Linked DNA regions of Homo sapiens: region 1 is linked to region 2. The links come from fine-mapping of genetic effects on gene expression. A gene starts in region 2. The other region holds a variant in brackets. All regions are shown on one strand. Distances are between the middles of the regions. Region 1 overlaps IQCH (IQ motif containing H). Region 2 holds the start of MAP2K5-DT (MAP2K5 divergent transcript).

Evidence for each region. PIP is the estimated chance that this variant, and not a neighbour inherited with it, causes the effect.
Region 1: its variant is the best candidate, but not a certain one, in a credible set for the expression of MAP2K5-DT in esophagus mucosa (GTEx, PIP 0.82).

Annotation. Positions count from the first base shown.
Region 1 is chr15:67,426,682-67,434,975 of GRCh38, reverse strand. All of the region lies in intron 16 of IQCH (IQ motif containing H), which reads right to left. It overlaps IQCH-AS1 (IQCH antisense RNA 1), which reads left to right. Exons shown (of 6, transcript NR_040052.1): 4 at 4,576-4,655. Among named protein-coding and RNA genes, the nearest start is that of C15orf61, 90 kb to the left of the region's middle. The variant C/T (reference allele first, on the strand shown) is at 4,805.
Region 2 is chr15:67,538,787-67,547,100 of GRCh38, reverse strand. It overlaps MAP2K5-DT (MAP2K5 divergent transcript), which reads left to right and starts at 4,471. Exons shown (of 1, transcript NR_186334.1): 1 at 4,471-6,033. MAP2K5 (mitogen-activated protein kinase kinase 5) reads right to left here and starts at 4,398. Exons shown (of 22, transcript NM_145160.3): 1 at 3,631-4,398. The coding sequence starts at 3,765. RefSeq lists a silencer at 4,263-4,382 and enhancers at 5,256-5,305, 4,958-5,458, 7,492-7,581.

The DNA.
Region 1 (8,294 bases), 110 kb after region 2:
ATACAAAAATACAAAAAAATTAAAAAAAAATACAAAAATACAGGCGTGGTGACGCGCTTGTAGTCCCAGCTACTCAGTAGGTGAGGCAGGAGAATCGCTAAACCCTAGAGGCAGAGGTTGCAGTGAGCCACGCCACTGCACTCTGGCCTGGGCAACAGAGTCAGACTCCGTCTCAAAAAAAAAAAAAAAAGAAAAGAAAAGAAAAGACAAAAGATAAGTATTGGTGAGAATGTGGAGAAAGGGAACCCTTATACACTGTTAGTGGGAATGTAAATTAGTACAGCCACTGTGGAAAACTGTATGGAGGTTCCTCAAAAACTTAAACACAGAACTACCATATGATCCACCAATCCCACTTCTGAGTGCGTAGCCAAAGAAAATAAAATCTTGAAGAGATATCTGCACTGCCGTGTCCATTGCAGCATTATTCATAATAGCCAAGACGTGGAAACAACCTAAGTGTCAGTTGATGACAGATGAAAGGATGAAGAAATTGTGGTGTGTGTGTATATATGTATGCATGTATATACACATTGGAATATTATTTAGCCTTAAAAAAGAAGGAAATTCTGTCATTCATGACAATATGAATGAACCTGGAGGATAATATGCTAAGTGAAATAAGCCAGACACAGAAAGACAAATACTGCATGATCTCACTTACATGTGGAATCCAAAAAAGTCAAACTTATAGCAACAGAAAGTAGATGAGTGATTACCAGGGGTCGGAAGGTGGGGGAAATGGGGAGATGCTGGTTAAAGTGTACAAACCTTCAGTTATAAGATGAATGAATTCTGGAGACCTAACGTATAGCATGGTGACTATAGTTAATAACCACATATTATATACCTGAAATTTGCTAAGAGAGTAGATCTTAACTTCTGACCACACACACACACACATCCAAGTGAGATGATGGATATGTTAATTAGCTTGATTGTGGTAATCATTTCACAAGGTATATTATATTGAAATATCATGTTGTACACCTTAAATAAAAATACTTTTTTTGGGTTAGTTATACCTCAATAAAGCTGGGATCGGAGAAGGACAATTTTGTAAGAGAAAATTTATCACATAAAAAGTCTTGACCACAGGTGACAGCTGGAACTAGAAACAACTTTCAGCTTTGTTTTGGGATGCTGGGGCAAGCTATAAATGCTCATAGGTGAAGAATCTTATGGTCTTTCTTGGCATTAGTAGGGAGCCTTTTCCTTTTTTCCTACCTCCTGCCCTCCTGAGTCCTGCAGAAATGTAGTACCTGCTGGAGACAGCAGGGTGCAGTGTGAGTGTCCAGATTTTCCTCGCCCTGGCCATGTTTCTGGTGATTCAAGTTAAAGATCCCTAAGTGCAGAGAGGTGTCTTGGTTTCATTTGAAAGGAAGCAAAGAGCTCCATGATGAGAATGGGCATCTTTTGAGGAAGTCCTGGGGGAACAGCTGATGTAAACAGAGGAATTAGGTCCGTTATATGCAGATCAACCAAAATCCTACCCAAGAGCTGATATTTAGGCTTGGGTTCAATATTTCTCAGTGTGAAGGTTTACAGTGTAAGGGGGGTTAACCAAACATTTAAGGACAGTCACAAATGGTAATATATACATAGCAAAGTTGGCCACTAGTTTACCTGCACTATCAGTGTTAAGAAACAGAATTGTAATTTTCACTGGAAAAATTTGTCATCATTGCCCATGTGCTTATTGTAGAAGTCATCATCATTGCCATCATCATTACTATTACTTGCATATTATAGGTCTCTTTCATTGACACAAAGATACAGCCCTTTTAAAGGGAGAAGGTCTTTTACTTTAATGCTTCCAAGTCCTTTGGGATGTATTTTCCCTTCACTAGGCATTAACTTGTGATTAACAATCTGCCCACTATAGCACTTTAAAACACTGAATAATAGGTACTTCTGTTAATACCAAAGGCGTATTACATTTTAATTTAGATATACTCTGTTAGCCTTCTTCCATATAAATAAAATACTTTCCCTAAAGAGAAAAAGTAAATCTCATTGAGCTTCCTTGGTGAATACCTTGTATATCTTGAAAACAGAGATAGGGGAGATCTTGCAAATGAGAGTACTAGAGGGGGATTTAGAGAAGTATTCATTCATTCATTAAATAAATATTTATTGAACATCTATTATATGCTAGACAGGGTGCTAGGTGCTGGGTATACAGCAGTGAACAAGAAGGAATTATGATATTTCTGTAGACTTTGGTTTTTCCATTCTCTGAAATAAATGTATTCATTTTTGATGCTTATATATCACTTTGAGATGATGATAATGCTCAGTGACTTTTAAAAATAATGCTAATTCAATTCTGATTCAACTCACAGTTTGAGCACCTGCTGAGGGCTCCTGTGACAGTTTTACATGTGGTTATGCCATTTGATTTAATAAGAACATCACCTTATATCTGCTTAGCCTCTCAGAACATACTGTGAGGAAGAGGGCAGGAATTTACCAGTTGATAACAAAAAAACAAGGCTCAGATTGGTCAAGTGAATTGTCTACAGTATCACACTAGTTAGTGGAAAGACTGGGGCCAGAACCCATTGCCATTGCAATGAAAATATTTTCAGATTTTTTTTTATTCTAGGCTGATATTCTGTATTTAGAAACTCTTAAAAATCGTTTTCAGACTTTATGGGATATACTGCGGTATATATCAGGGCCTCCATTTTCATCTTTCCTCACAATCTGTACTTTGTGACAAGTCTTATTTCCTTTCTGTAGCTAACTTTATGTTTTGGAAGGGCCATTACTACTCTCCAATAGCTAGTTTTCATATCAATTCTTCTTAAAGCTTGGATTTTCTTTAATTTCCTTTTTCAAAAAAAGTATTAACTATCAATGCTTATAATACAGATTGTTGTTTCAAAGTTCACAATTATCTAAAATAAGAGTTAATTTATTTATTTATTTTTGAGACAGGGTCTTGCTCTGTCATCCAGGCTGGAGTGCAGTGGCGAGATCCTAGCTTATTGCAGCCAGCCTCCAACTCCTGGGCTTAAGTGATCCTCCTGCCTCAGCCTCCCATGTAGGTAGGATTACAGATGTGTGCCACCATGCCCAACTAATTTTTTATTTTTAATTTTAGAGATGAGTCTTGATGCCCAGGCTAAAAGAACTTTTTTTCCTTTTTCCATCACCTGAAGCTTTTATTTGGTAAAAGCCAGATCACCATGCTCCTCAAGAAACAAGAGGCTACAATCTAAAAAACTATTGATATTGGTAGGAAATGTTCAACTAAATTCTATGATAATTAATGAACCTTATATCTATTCAATTTCCTGTGAAATATAAAGAACAATGTGTGTTTTTTTTTAACTTTTAAGTTCGGGGTACGTGTGCAGGTTTGCTACACAGGTAAACTTGTGCCATGGGGGTTTGTTGTACACATTATTTCATCACCCAGGTATTAAGCCTAGTACCCAGGAGTTATTTTTCCTGATTCTCTCCCTCCTCCCACCCTCCACCCTTTGATAGGCCTCAGTGCGTGGTGTTCCCCTCTATGTGTCCCTGTATTCTCATCATTTAGCTCCCACTTATAAGTGGGAACATGCAGTATTTGGTTTTCTGTTCCTGTGTTAGTTTACTAAGGATAATGACCTCCAGCTACATCCATGTCCCTGCAAATGCAGGACATGATCTTGTTCTGAAAGAATTTTTTAATTTGGGAATTTTCATATAGAGCATCTTTGCCAATCTATTTGTTTAGAGACTTTTATATGAGGAACAGGAATGGGAGAATTGCTATATAAATGTATATTTACTTGAGGTGAATCCAACATGATATTTGTAAGACTTAGATCATCATTTTTATCCATATGTGTTCTGTGCTTTTTCCCACCACTCTTTCCCACCAAGTGAGCCTGTTTCTCACTTGGAATACACTCTTTCTTACCCTCCTCATATCCTAATTTTCTTTCGGCTCAAATCCCACCTTCTCTGCAAAACCTTTCTTGATTGCTCCCAACAGAAGGGATCTTTCTCTTGTCTGAATGCATGTAGAAAAATCATTTGGCCGTTAAACTGATATTACCTTTTTGATGTCTCTTTTATTGTTCTACGTAGTTGTCACTTAAGCCTTTCCTTGCTACTCATTTTTCAAGCCTATCTTCCCAACTAGAATGTGAACTCCCTAAGGGCAGGCACTTCCATGTCTTTTGCATCTTTGTAGCTTCTCTAGCACCTAGCATTATGGCTTATACATAATAGATGCTCAATAAACACTTGTTTTTTTTAGAGTTTCCCCAAAGTGAGTAATTAACTACAAAAGATCTGGATCATCTAGAAGTTCCAAAAGTCCATAAATCAACAAATAATAATCAGGTGGCTGGCCAAATATGACCATCATTGTGTTAGACATTATGAAGAGGTAAAAAAAATTCAAGGCCTAGTACATTTTCTAAAGGATTAAAAAAATCTCATGGAGGCAATATTTATACCTATGAATCAATACAAGTATAAAACAATTGTGTGCATGTATAGCAAATAAAATGGGACGATGGATATGAAATAAGCTTTGTCATGATACAGAAGATGTCTTGTTTATTTCCACAGCACCTAACAGGAAGCCAGAGTAGGTCCTCTGAAGGTGTTTGTTCAATGAACTTGTCATCCTCCTCAACTTAAAGCCTTTAGTAAGTACTTCATATCCCTCCTAGAACCTACTAGATACTGTTTATCATTGATCCTGGCTCCAGGACCCATCAGGATTTGGAAATAGCTTTTGCTGCTATTTGTTTACTGCTTGGATCCCCTTACATAATATTATCCTTATGTGGGAAGG[C/T]CAGATCTCCAACATGGCTGCCTTGTAGCTCTGTGTATTCTGGAGTGCCATGTACTCTGCGTGCCATCTCTGAAGGCCTAGAATTTCCCCATTTCTAGGGTACCAAAATCCTGGACCTAAATCCACTGGCAGGAGTAATCTTAGACCATGCTCCACCATCTCCATTTCCCAGGGACCAGCCCCTTCTTCCTTGATTACAAAATGACCGTGTGTTCTACTTGATGCTTCCAATATTTAAGTCTTACATTTCCACAACTTCTTCTATTCTGCTAGAACCTCATTCTCATCTCCTTAGGTCTAGAAAGAATTCTCCACTTTCTTTTCTGGAGTTGATTCACAATTGTGGGACTGTCCTTGAGGCATTGCTGTCATTTTATCTATTTTGCCTTGGCCCCCAGTCCCCTTTGCCCCTCCTGCGTCAGCATGGTAAATTATGGGGCCCAGCTGGGGCCAATGGGCATGAATTTGAAATGGATGCAGTCACCTCAGTTTTCTGTTTCCCATGTCTTATTGTAAGACCTGTGTGTATGTGAGTAAGATCATGTATGTGAAAGTGCTTTGCAAACAATAACATTCTATACAAATTTTTGTTATCGTTATTCATGTATTTTTTTCTGATTAGAAATATAATACATGTTTGCTTTTTATTTTTTTGAGACAGGGTCTCGTTCTGTTGCTCAAGCTGGAGTGCAGTGGCACGATCATGGCTCACTGCAGCCTCAATCTTCCAGGCTCAAATTATCCTCCTACCTCAGTCTCCTGAGTAGCTGGGACTATAGGTGCACATCATCATGTCCAGCTAATTTTTAAAAAATTTTTTGTAGAGACAAGGGTTTTGCTATGTTGCCTATGCTGATCTCAAACTCCTGAACTCAAGTGATCCTCCCATCTCAGCTTTCCAAAGTGCTGGGTTTATACACATGAGCCACTGAGCCTAGACTATAATACATGTTTACTTTTGCAGAAAACACAAAGAACAAAATAGCAACCACCCTCTATATTAGTATCCTATTGCTGCTGCAACAAATTGCCACAAACTTCCTGGCTTAAAACAACACAGATTTATTATTTTTCAGCTCTGTGGGTCAGAAGTCTTACTGGGCTAAAAATTAAGATGTGGGCAGGGCTTTGTTCCTCCTGGAGACTCTAGAGGAGAATCTGTTTCCTTGCCTTTTCTGGCTTCTAGAGGCCATGTGCCTTCATTGGCTCATGCCATTGGCTCATGGTCCCTTCCTCCTTGTTCAAGGCCAGCAGCACAGCATCTTCAAATCCTTCTCTTTCTATGATCCCCCTGCCTCTCTCTCTCTCTTTTTTTTTTTTTTTTGAGACAGAGTCTCACTCTGTCACCAGGCTGGAGTGCAGTGGCATGGTCTCAGTTCACTGCAACCTCCACCACCCGGGTTCAAGCGATTCTCCTGCCTCAGCCTCCTGAGTAGCTGGGATTACAGGCACGTGCCACCATGCCCAGCTAATTTTTGTATTTTTAGTAGAGATGGGGTTTCACCATATTGGTCAGGCTTGTCTCAAACTCCTGACCTCGTGATCCACCCGCCTCGGTCTCCCAAAGTGTTGGGATTACAGGTGTGAGTCACCGCACCCGGCCTGCCTCTCTTTTAAAAGGACCCTGGTGATTATATTGGGGCCACCTGGATAATGCAAGCTACTCTTCCCAACTCAAGATCCTTAACTTAATCACATATGCAAAGTCCTTTTGCCATGCAACATAATGTTCACAGATTTGGGGAATTAGGGTGTGGATATCTTTAGCGGACCATTACTCTGCCACCTTCAATCTTGCTGTCCAGAAATAATGACTTGTAACATCTTAGTATATATCTTTAGGTTCTTTTAACTCTGCATTTATATATTTTTTTCTTTTTATAAAATTATCATATTGCATATATTGCTTGTGATCTGCTTTTTACCTTTATCTATTCTATAAAGTTTCCTGTTAAATATTCTTTAAAAACATTAGTTTTAATGTCTTCATAGTATGCAATTTCATTGAACTATCATAATTTGCTCTAAATATTCTCTATAGTTGGAGATCAGGTGCAGTGGCTCACGCCTGTAATCCCAGCACTTTGGGAGGCCAAGGCAGGTGGATCACTTGAGGCCAGGAGTTCAAGACCAGCCTGGCCAACATGGCGAAACCCCGTCTCTACTAAAAATACAAAAGTTAGTCAGGTGTGGTGTGTGCCTGTAATCCCAGCTACTCAGGAGGCTAAGGCACAAGAATCACTTGAGCCTGGGAGGCAAAGATTACAGTGAAGCAAGATCATGCCACTGCACTCCAGCCTGGGCAACACAGGGAGATTCTGCTTCAAAAAAAAAAAAAAAAATCTATTATTGGAATTTAGACTACTTGAAATATTTTGCTATTCTTAATAATGATGTGATTAATATATGTGTATTTAAATCTTTGTGATTATTTCCTGGTGATAATTTTTTTAAAGTGGATGATTATTATTAACATTTGAATTTGCTGATACAGAAAATAAGTGCTTTAAAATGTTATTGAAATAAAGACTGTTTTGAACTGTAGGTTACCTCAGATGCAAAATAAGCTAACCTCCTCATTTTATAGCTGAGAAAACTGAAAATGAGGGAAAGTGATAAGTTCAAGGTAATATAGCAATTTAGAAGAAGAGCTGGAGGCCAGGCACAGTGGTTCACACCTGTAATCCAAGCACTTTGGGAGGCCAAGGCAGGAGGATGGCTCAAGGCCAGGAGTTCAAAACCAGCCTGGGCAACATAGTGAGACCCTATCTCTACAAAAAAAAGAAAAGAAAAAAGAAAAACAGCTGGATTTGACTATATGAAACTTTAGTATGATGAAGAGTATTACAAATAAAACACAAATGACAGGATTGGGATCCAAGCACATGAGGCATGGAGGGGTAGGGCACAGATAGAGTAGGCAAAGAAGATGGCAGGAGTGGTTGGGAGATTAGTTACATTAAACAAATAAGTAAACTGACTAAGCAAAGAAGTAACTATATTGAGGGATAAAGACTCAAGTTTCTCATTGTTGGAGAAGTTATTTATTTTTTAGTGTTCCAATAAAACTTTATTTACATAAAATGAATGCTGGGTCAGATTTAGCCTGTAGGCCATTGTTTACCAACTCCTGCTCTAGACTATCTTGATCCTCCTGTTTCTGGGATTTTCTTCTTCTTTTTTTTTTTTGGATACTGGGTCTCTGTTGCCCAGGCTGGAGTACAGTGGTACAATCACAGCTTATTGCAGCATTGACCTCCCGGGCCCAAGCAATCCTCCTACCTCAGCCTCTCAAATAGCTGGAATCACAGATGAGTGCCATTATGCTTGGCTAATTTTGTTTATTTTAAAAATTTTTTTGGTAGAGACTGGACCTTTCTATGTTGCCCAGGCTGGTATTGAACTCCTGAGCTCAAGCAATTCTCCTGCCTCAGCCTCCCAAAGTGCTGGGATTACAGGCATGAGCCACCACATCTGGCCTGGGATTTTA
Region 2 (8,314 bases):
TGTGTGTGTGTGTGTGTGTGTGTTTTCTTCTTTTTTGAGATAGGGTCTCGCTCTGTGACCCAAGCTAGAGTGCAGTGGTGCAATCACAGCTCCCTATAGCCTCGACCTCTAGGTTCAAGAGATTCTCCCACCTCAGCCTCCCTAATAGCTGGGACCACAGGTGAGTGTCACCAAGCCCCCACTAATTTTTGCATTTTTTGTAGAGATGGGGTTTTGCCATGTTGCCCAGGCTGGTCTCGAACTCCTGAGTTTAAGCGATCTACCCACCTCGGCCTCCCAAAGTGTTGGCATTACAGGCCTAAGCCACCACTCCTGGCCCAGAAGTCTTATAGATGAGGGGAAATCTGAGCTTGGAGACCACAGAATACAAAAAGAAGAGGGGAGAGGGTTGGGCATTCTCTCTCATCACACACTAACCAGACCTCTTGTATAGTTTTCCCAAAACTAGGAACTCAGTCTCCAGGGAAAAAGAGAAACACAGAAAGCTGCAAAACAGAAGACCCAAATGTCTCTACCTTTGAGGGTCAGGTCAGCCTCCATAGTTCAGCCAGTCCCTGATGATTCAGACAAAAGACAAGGCCCAGAGAGACCGACTGACTTGCCCAGGGTCTCCCAGCTATTTGATGCACAGTGACTGGAGCCCTCAACTGCTGACTTCAGGTCCGAGACACTCAGTTATGGCTGACTCGGTGACTACAACCTGCTTCTGGCATCTGTGTCAGGTTCTGCCAAAAATTAGCTGGGTGGCTTTAGCAAGGTATTTTCCCCCTGTGGGGTTCATGCCTCTTCATTCGAAATGAGTCTGAATTAGATGAGGGGATTCTTCCAGGTTCCACGTGACTTTAAAGTTTAAGGTTCCAAGCCAGAGATGCTGACGTGTCTCTTGGTTCTTGCCTTTTCTTGATGAAGAGATGAAGTAAACCTGGAGAACAGATCACAGGAGTCTGCCATGATCTGGGCTTGAACATTTGCTAAAATGGAGCACTAGGAGATAGCACTGAACACCCACTGCCACAGGTCCTTCGTCAGGCCTTTCTGACAAAACATGCTCCACCTGGGCTTACCTAGCCAAAAGTGTGCAGACACCTGGCATGCTGAGCTCTAGTGGTGGGGCCACTCGTGTTTCCTGTTAAGCCAGTCAGCCTTGAGCCAGGTACAACTTAGAGATGCTCAAGAAACAGAAGACCCAAGTCCAATCCCTTATAATAACAATCCCATCAATAATAACAACACTAATGGAGCGCTTACTATGTGCTAAGTTGTTCTGAGTGCTTTACATGTATCAACTCAAGGAGTCCTCAGAACTCTAGGAGGTAGGCATTACTTTCACCCCTCCCCAACTTTTTTTTCACAAATAAAGAAACTGAGATACAGAAGATACTTGCCCCAGTAGTACAACTTGCAAGTTAAACAACCTGGCTCCAGAGTTTGTGGTCTTAAACACTGGGCTATTCTTGAAATAATCACATAACCAAATAATATAATCACATAATAATCAACCTTCCATTGTTTTAAATGAGTAAGAGAAAACCCATCTTTCTCATCACAGTCACAATCTCACATAATCTTTCCAAGTCTTTGAGGAAGGTACAAGTTTCCCTGTTTTACAAATAAGGAAACTAAGGCTCAGAGAGGTAGACTGACTTGCCTAGTCAGTGGGACAGCTTGCAATTAAACCCAAATTCCTTGACTCTAAACCTAGTGTTCTGTCCACAGAACCATAATTGCATGCATCCTCTTTTAAGCTCCCTTCTTAAACAAGTATTTTGGGGTCCTATGAAGAAACAAAAACAAACATATCTATCTCCTCCAGAAGTTTACCATCTAGTGGAGGAGACAAAGAATCATGATCAAACATGTGCTTTGCTGGGGGACCCACACAAAGCTGTGACGACACAGAGGTGGGGCACATAACCAAGAATGACACAGAGAAAAAGCACAACTTGGCTTGGAAGGACAGGTGGGAATTGACCGGTGAAGAGCAGAGTGCAGACAGCCTGGACACCTGGGAGAAATGAAAATCAACCTATGTAAGTGAGGCACAGAAGTTTATGGGGCCGTGAAGAGAGATGACACAGGTGCCAGGCAGACAGGGGCCAATCCAGATGTGCCCAGAGGACCACATGAAGGAGCCTGGGCCTTATCATGAGGGGAAATCTGTATGTGCATGACTGTGTGGAGAACTCCGGATACAAAGAGAAGGATGGCATTTGATGCACAATATGGAAAGCTCCTGGTCAAGGCACCCAAAAATCTGCATGGCCTGGGCAGTCAGTAACATCTAGAACTCAAAATGAAGTTATAGAAATCAAATTTTGATTAAGTTACCCAAGACAATGAAAAATCACATCACAAATCTTCCTCTTCCCAAGATCCTGCCACCTTGCCCACTCTTAACTTGCAGGTAGTGATGTGCTTTTCGGAATGTCCGCTTCTGTCTTCCATGCCTCAGTTATTCTGCATGTAGAATGGGCACAAGGCACCCTGTCTATCTCAAATGAATACCAGAAAGATTAGAAGCGGCTGCAACATGTAGGGAAAGAAACCTACTAAGTCAATGAAACAAAATTTTAGTTCTGGTACTGACTCTCCCACTCAGGAGCTCACAGCTTTGGAAAAGCCATTTCACCTCACTGCTCCTCAGTAACTATCTGCAAAAAAGAAACATCAGCTGAACAGGCCACCTACAGTGTTACACTCTGCTCTAAAATTCCATCATTTTATTTGAAATATATTCTGAAAAATCTGAATGTAAAATATCACCAATTCTAAGATGCACATTTTCCCTTACTTTTACCGTCTCTGAAACTGGACTCATTTTAATAACGGATGATGTGTCATACTGTCATGGTTAGCATTTTTTTCTAAGTAAAATGTCTTACATTCAATGATGCTTTAAGTTTGCTCAGGCTGGGCACAGTAACTCACACCTGTAATCTCAGCACTTTGGGAAGGCCGAGGCAAGCAAATCGCAGGAGTTCAAGACCAGCCTGGGCAACATGGCAATACCTCGTCTCTACAAGATACAAAAATTATCCAGGTGTGATGGCATGTGCCAGCTACTTGGGAGGCTGAGGTAGGAGAATCGCTTGAGCCCAGGAGGCAGAGGCTGCAGTGAGCCGAGATCGTGCCACAGCACTGCAGCCTGAGCGACAGAGTGAGGCCCTGTCTCAAAATAAATTAATGAAACAGTGTGCTCAAACATGGTAAGTTAAAGTTGTCCTTTTTCCCTTTCTCAGCTGGTCACCAAGTTCAGAGAACTCAGTAGAAAAACAAGGCTGGAATCTGTCCAAGGACATTCCCCGAAACACTTGGGGGGAAAAAACCTCTCTTCTAGATTCAGCAGTTTGCATTTGCGTGGTTGTGTCTATATGTGTGTCCCAGCCCGGGCCATGAGCTCTCTGAGGGCAGGGGTTCAGTCAGATTGATCTATCTCCCCAGGGTCCTAGACATTTGCCAGGTTTTAGTGGTTGCAATTTATCAATGCTGTGCCTGAAGCAATAAAACTGCCTCCACAGGAAGCCAGCAGTAGCCATTGCCACTGGCTCAGGTCACCAGTGGTCAAGGTGCTGACTACTCAAGTCCCTGAGTCCCCCTTGCTGGCATCCGGACACTGAGATTACCACTCACCAGCACATCCCTGAAGAGTAACTGCGGCCCGGAGTGCACTGTCCAGTCCACCGCGCCACTATTTGGGATCTTGATGCGAATTACCAGCACCTGGTTCTCCATGGCAGGAAAGGGGCCAAGGGCTAGCCACAGCATTACAGGTTAAAGAGGCTCACATCCTGGGGTATGGGAAACCCACTGGCCGCTGGTTAGGAGGGGGCTCCAAGAGGTGACAAGGGGAGTGACGGGCAGAGGACAGAGGGTGAAAACAAGGGAATGGAGGATGAGGGGGAGGGAAGAGGGGAGGGGTGATCAGGAACGCACCCGCAGGCACCGAGCCTGCCCAGGCTGTCGGGGGTCTGAGGTGTCTCCCGGGGAGGGTGCACCGGGAAGCGGGCAAAGGCCCGCAGGAACTAGCGGAGGTCGGAAGGTTCTGGAGTTGAGCGAACGCTATGGTGAAGGTCTCTGCCGCCGTGTGGGTATGAGGAGGCAGCAGGGCAAGGACTCGGTTTGGGGGAGATACAGCGGCAGGTGTCCACCGCTCGTCAGTGGACTAGGAGAGGGTCCTCGACTGGAGGGGACTCAGTCCGGGGCTATTAAGAAAGAGCCCCAGGGCCGCCACACCACGGAGAGTCCCCGCGGGAGGTTCAAGGGGCGAGTCTTCTGCCCCACCCGGAGACACAGGGCGCGGCGCGCGCAGGCTGAGCTCCGGCCACCCGAGGCCGCGCGGACTGGCGGCGGCTGCGGCGGCGGCGACGGCGGTAGCGGCGAGAGGAGGAGGAGGAAGGCGGCGGCGACACTGTTACTCCGGAACCAAAACGCGCGGCGCCGGAACCCCGGGAGCCGACGAGCGGGACCCGCCTCCCGCGGCGCCATGTTGGAAAAGGGCAGCAGCTCCCGGGAGGATGCGCCCCCGGCGTGGGAAGCCGAGGAACCGGCGCGCGGCGCGCGGCGCGTGGCGCGTGGCGAGTCGGGGAGAGACTGGTCTTGCTCGCTCAGGAGACCCTCATCGCCCACAGAGCGCCCGCGGCGACCCGGTCACGGCCCTTCCATTTCCTGACCCTGCTTAATGACAGCGAGGTGAAAACATCTACCAAACGAAGGGTAAAAGGCTGGAGTCCGCCAAAAGCCAATTTAAGGCTTAACATTGCAGACCGTTTGTCTTTACAAAAGCTTCAAAGACGGGGCTGCAGCTCCCGGTTATCCCCACTTTGTCAAGCCATGAATCTGAATGTTCGTGGGGTTGTGTGCATCGAATCAGCAAGAGCAAGGCAAGAATTCAAGAAATAGTTCTTTTTTATCCCCCCTTCCAAGTCACAGGTTCAGAGGATCATCATCTTTCTCCCACATTAGCAAAACATATTTGCATTTTTCAGTGAAGTTCTTTACCGCACGAGTGCCCTAAAATAGCAAACAGTTCCCTGTTCAAAAGCAATAGTAAAGAAATTCGCCGAAGAGTTTAATTGCCTGGGGACAGCTGCAGTAGTCGCATCATCGTCTCTTATTAAACTGTTGCAGAAATATTCGGTCTAGTCCATGTATTTTCAACTAAATAGCACTGCTTACGCAGTTGGTGATATGGTGATATCACGGAAGTAGCAATAAACCTTGGTTATCTTTTTTTTTTTTTTTTTTGAGACGGAGTCTCGCTCCGTCGCCCAGGCTGGAGTGCAACGGCGCGACCTCTACTCACCACAACCTCAGCCTCCCGGATTCAAGCGATTCTCCTGCCTCAGCACTACCACCCCCACCAGCCCCCAACCCCTGCCGAGTAACTGGGACTACAGGCGTGCGCCATCCGTGCCCGCTCATTTTTGTATTTTCAGTAGAGACTGGGTTTCACTATGTTGGCCAGGCTGGTCTCAAACTCCTGACCTCGTGATCCGCCCACCTCAGCCTCCCAAAGTGCTGGGGGGATTACAGGTGTGAGCCACCGCGCCCGGCCAACCTTGGTTATCTTCAAATGCCTTGTTACCTCAGATTTTAAAGTGCATAAGGTTGTAGAACGATGGTGCCTCTACAGAAGTTTCTTTACAAATTGTAATGTGTAGGTTCGTCCTTTATTTCTTTCTTATGAAGGTGCACGAATTGGCTTTACTTTCTGGGGTTGAATTTTGTATAAACTCGGTTGAGGAGGCTTGTCAGTTTCCCTTCTAACAGTAAGGTGCTTGATTAATGTGAGAGAAAAAAATTAATGTTGGTCATTTTCAGTTACAATACCAAAATTTTTTCTGCATACTTTACTCTGAGTTACTTTTATATTTAATTTGAAAGGCCATTGTAGGAGATAAATTATCACATTTTAAGTTACTGTAAATCAATAGCTTAGGTAGAAATTCATTTAGTCAGATCCTTCAGATATTCTAGGAATTTCCCCTTTTCACCTGCACTTCACTTCTGTGAAAAATAAACCGTTCATCAAAAGTCCTCATGTACTTTTATTAAAAGTTCATTTCCTATTATTTTAGAAAATAGACCACGAAACTAGAGATTTTCTATGAACCTGTGATTTGTTAAAATGTCTCTTTTATTCGAAGTACCGTGGGGAAAACCAACTCAATTTGCCAAATTTGCATACATATTCTGAAGCTTTTCTTACACTAATGGCAAACTCATATTTCTGTTCCAATATTTGCAGAGCCAATATAATTACACGTCAGCTCTTCATAGCCTTTATGTAGTAAGAAATCTTAACTTTGATGATTTGAGCAAGGATTTTTCCAGAAAGTTATAACTCTCATTGCGAGAAGCATCATAATCACTGATAATACATTCCACTTGATATCATAAATGACAAAATATAACTTTCTGATCTTTACCAAATTGAATACTGTCTAAATTTAAGGAATATTTAGTATTTAACATCGAAGTTGCATGTGATCTTAAGAAGTTTGCATTTAGTACTTTTTTTCATTTTATTTTATTTTATTTATTTATTTTGAGACGGAGTCTTACTCTGTCACCCAGACTGTAGTGCACTGGCGCAGTCTCGGCTCATTGCAACCTCCACCTCCCAGGTTCAAGCGATTCTCCTGCCTCAGCCTCCCAAGTAACTAGGACTATAGGTATGTGCCACCACGCCCAGCTAATTGTTGTACTTTTAGTAGAGACGAGGTTTCACCATGTTGGCCAGGCTGGTCTGGAACTCCTGACCTCAAGTGATCCACCCGTCTCGGCCTCCCAAAGTGCTAGGAATACAGGCGTGAGACAGCGCGCCAGGCCTTTTTTCTTGTTAAATGATACAAGTCAGAATAGTCACTCAGGTACTGGCTGAGATAGTTTACTAGCCATTAAGCAAACTTACTGTAAAAAAAAAACTGTGCTTACTTGTAGTGTTCCTACTTGAGGGATTTACTTTTCACTAAGTGTAATAGAAAATCCCTCCCCTCATGAAGTTATATTCTGATGGGGAACACAGACAAATGAGTAAAATATATGTTAGATAGTAGTAAATGCTAACAGAAAAATGAAATCAGAAGGGAAAATGGTAAAACAGTAAGTGCACCAGTGTGATAACACTAAGGAATATGAAAACTGGCCTATATTGGCTTCAGTTAACTGGCAAATTTAACTGAAAATAGACACATTACTGAAAAGTTAGATGTCTAGTGATTTTTTTCCTTGTGATAAAATACACATAAAATTTACCATTGTACTCATTTTGAAGTGTGCAGATCAGTAGTGTTACATACATTCATTCATCCTGTTGTACAGCCAATCTCCAGATTTTCATCTTGCAAAACTGAAACTCTATATTCATTAAACAACTGCCCACTTCCCCTTCCCTCCAGCCCCTGGCAACCACCAATCAACTTTCTATTTCTATGAATTTGACTACTCTAGATACCTCATATAAATAGAATCATCCAGTATCTGCCTTTTTGTGACTGGCTTATTTCACTTGGTATAATGCCTTCAGGGTCCATCATGTTGTAACATGTGTCAGCATTTCCTTACTTTTTTTTTTTTTTTTAAGATGTACTCTTGCTGTGTCATCAACACTGGAGTGTAGTGGCATGATCTAGGCTCCACCTCCTGGGTTCAAGCAATTCTCCCACTTCAGCCTCCCAAGTAGCTGGGATTACAGGTGCCCACCACCACACAAGGCTAATTTTTGTATTTTTAGTAGAGACAGGGTTTCACCATGTTGGCCAGATTGGTCTCGAACTCCTGACCTCAGGTGATCCACCCACCTTGGCCTCCCAAAGTGCTGGGGTTACAGGCATGAGCCACCACCCCTGGCCATTTCCTTCCTTTTCAAAGCTGAACAAAATTCTGTTGTGTGTATATAACACATTGTGTGTATCCATTCATCTATCAATGAACATTTAAGTTGTTTCCACCTTTTGGCTATTGTGAATAATGCTGATATGAACATGGGGGTACAAATATCTGTTCCTGTCTCTCCTTTCGACTTTTTGGGATGTATACTCAAAAGTGGAATTGCTGGATCATATTTTCTATGTTTAATTTTTTGAGGAATCACCATACTGTTTTCCAGAGTGGCTGTACCATTTTACATTCTCACCAAAAGTGCATAAGAGTTCCAATTTCTCCATGTTTTCACCACCACTGGTTATTTTCTATATTTGTTTATAGTAGCTATCCTGTTGGGTATAATGTGATATCTTACTGTAGTTTTAATTTGTATTTCTCTAATGATTAGTGATGTTGAACATCTTTACCTATTCTTGTTGCTCATTTG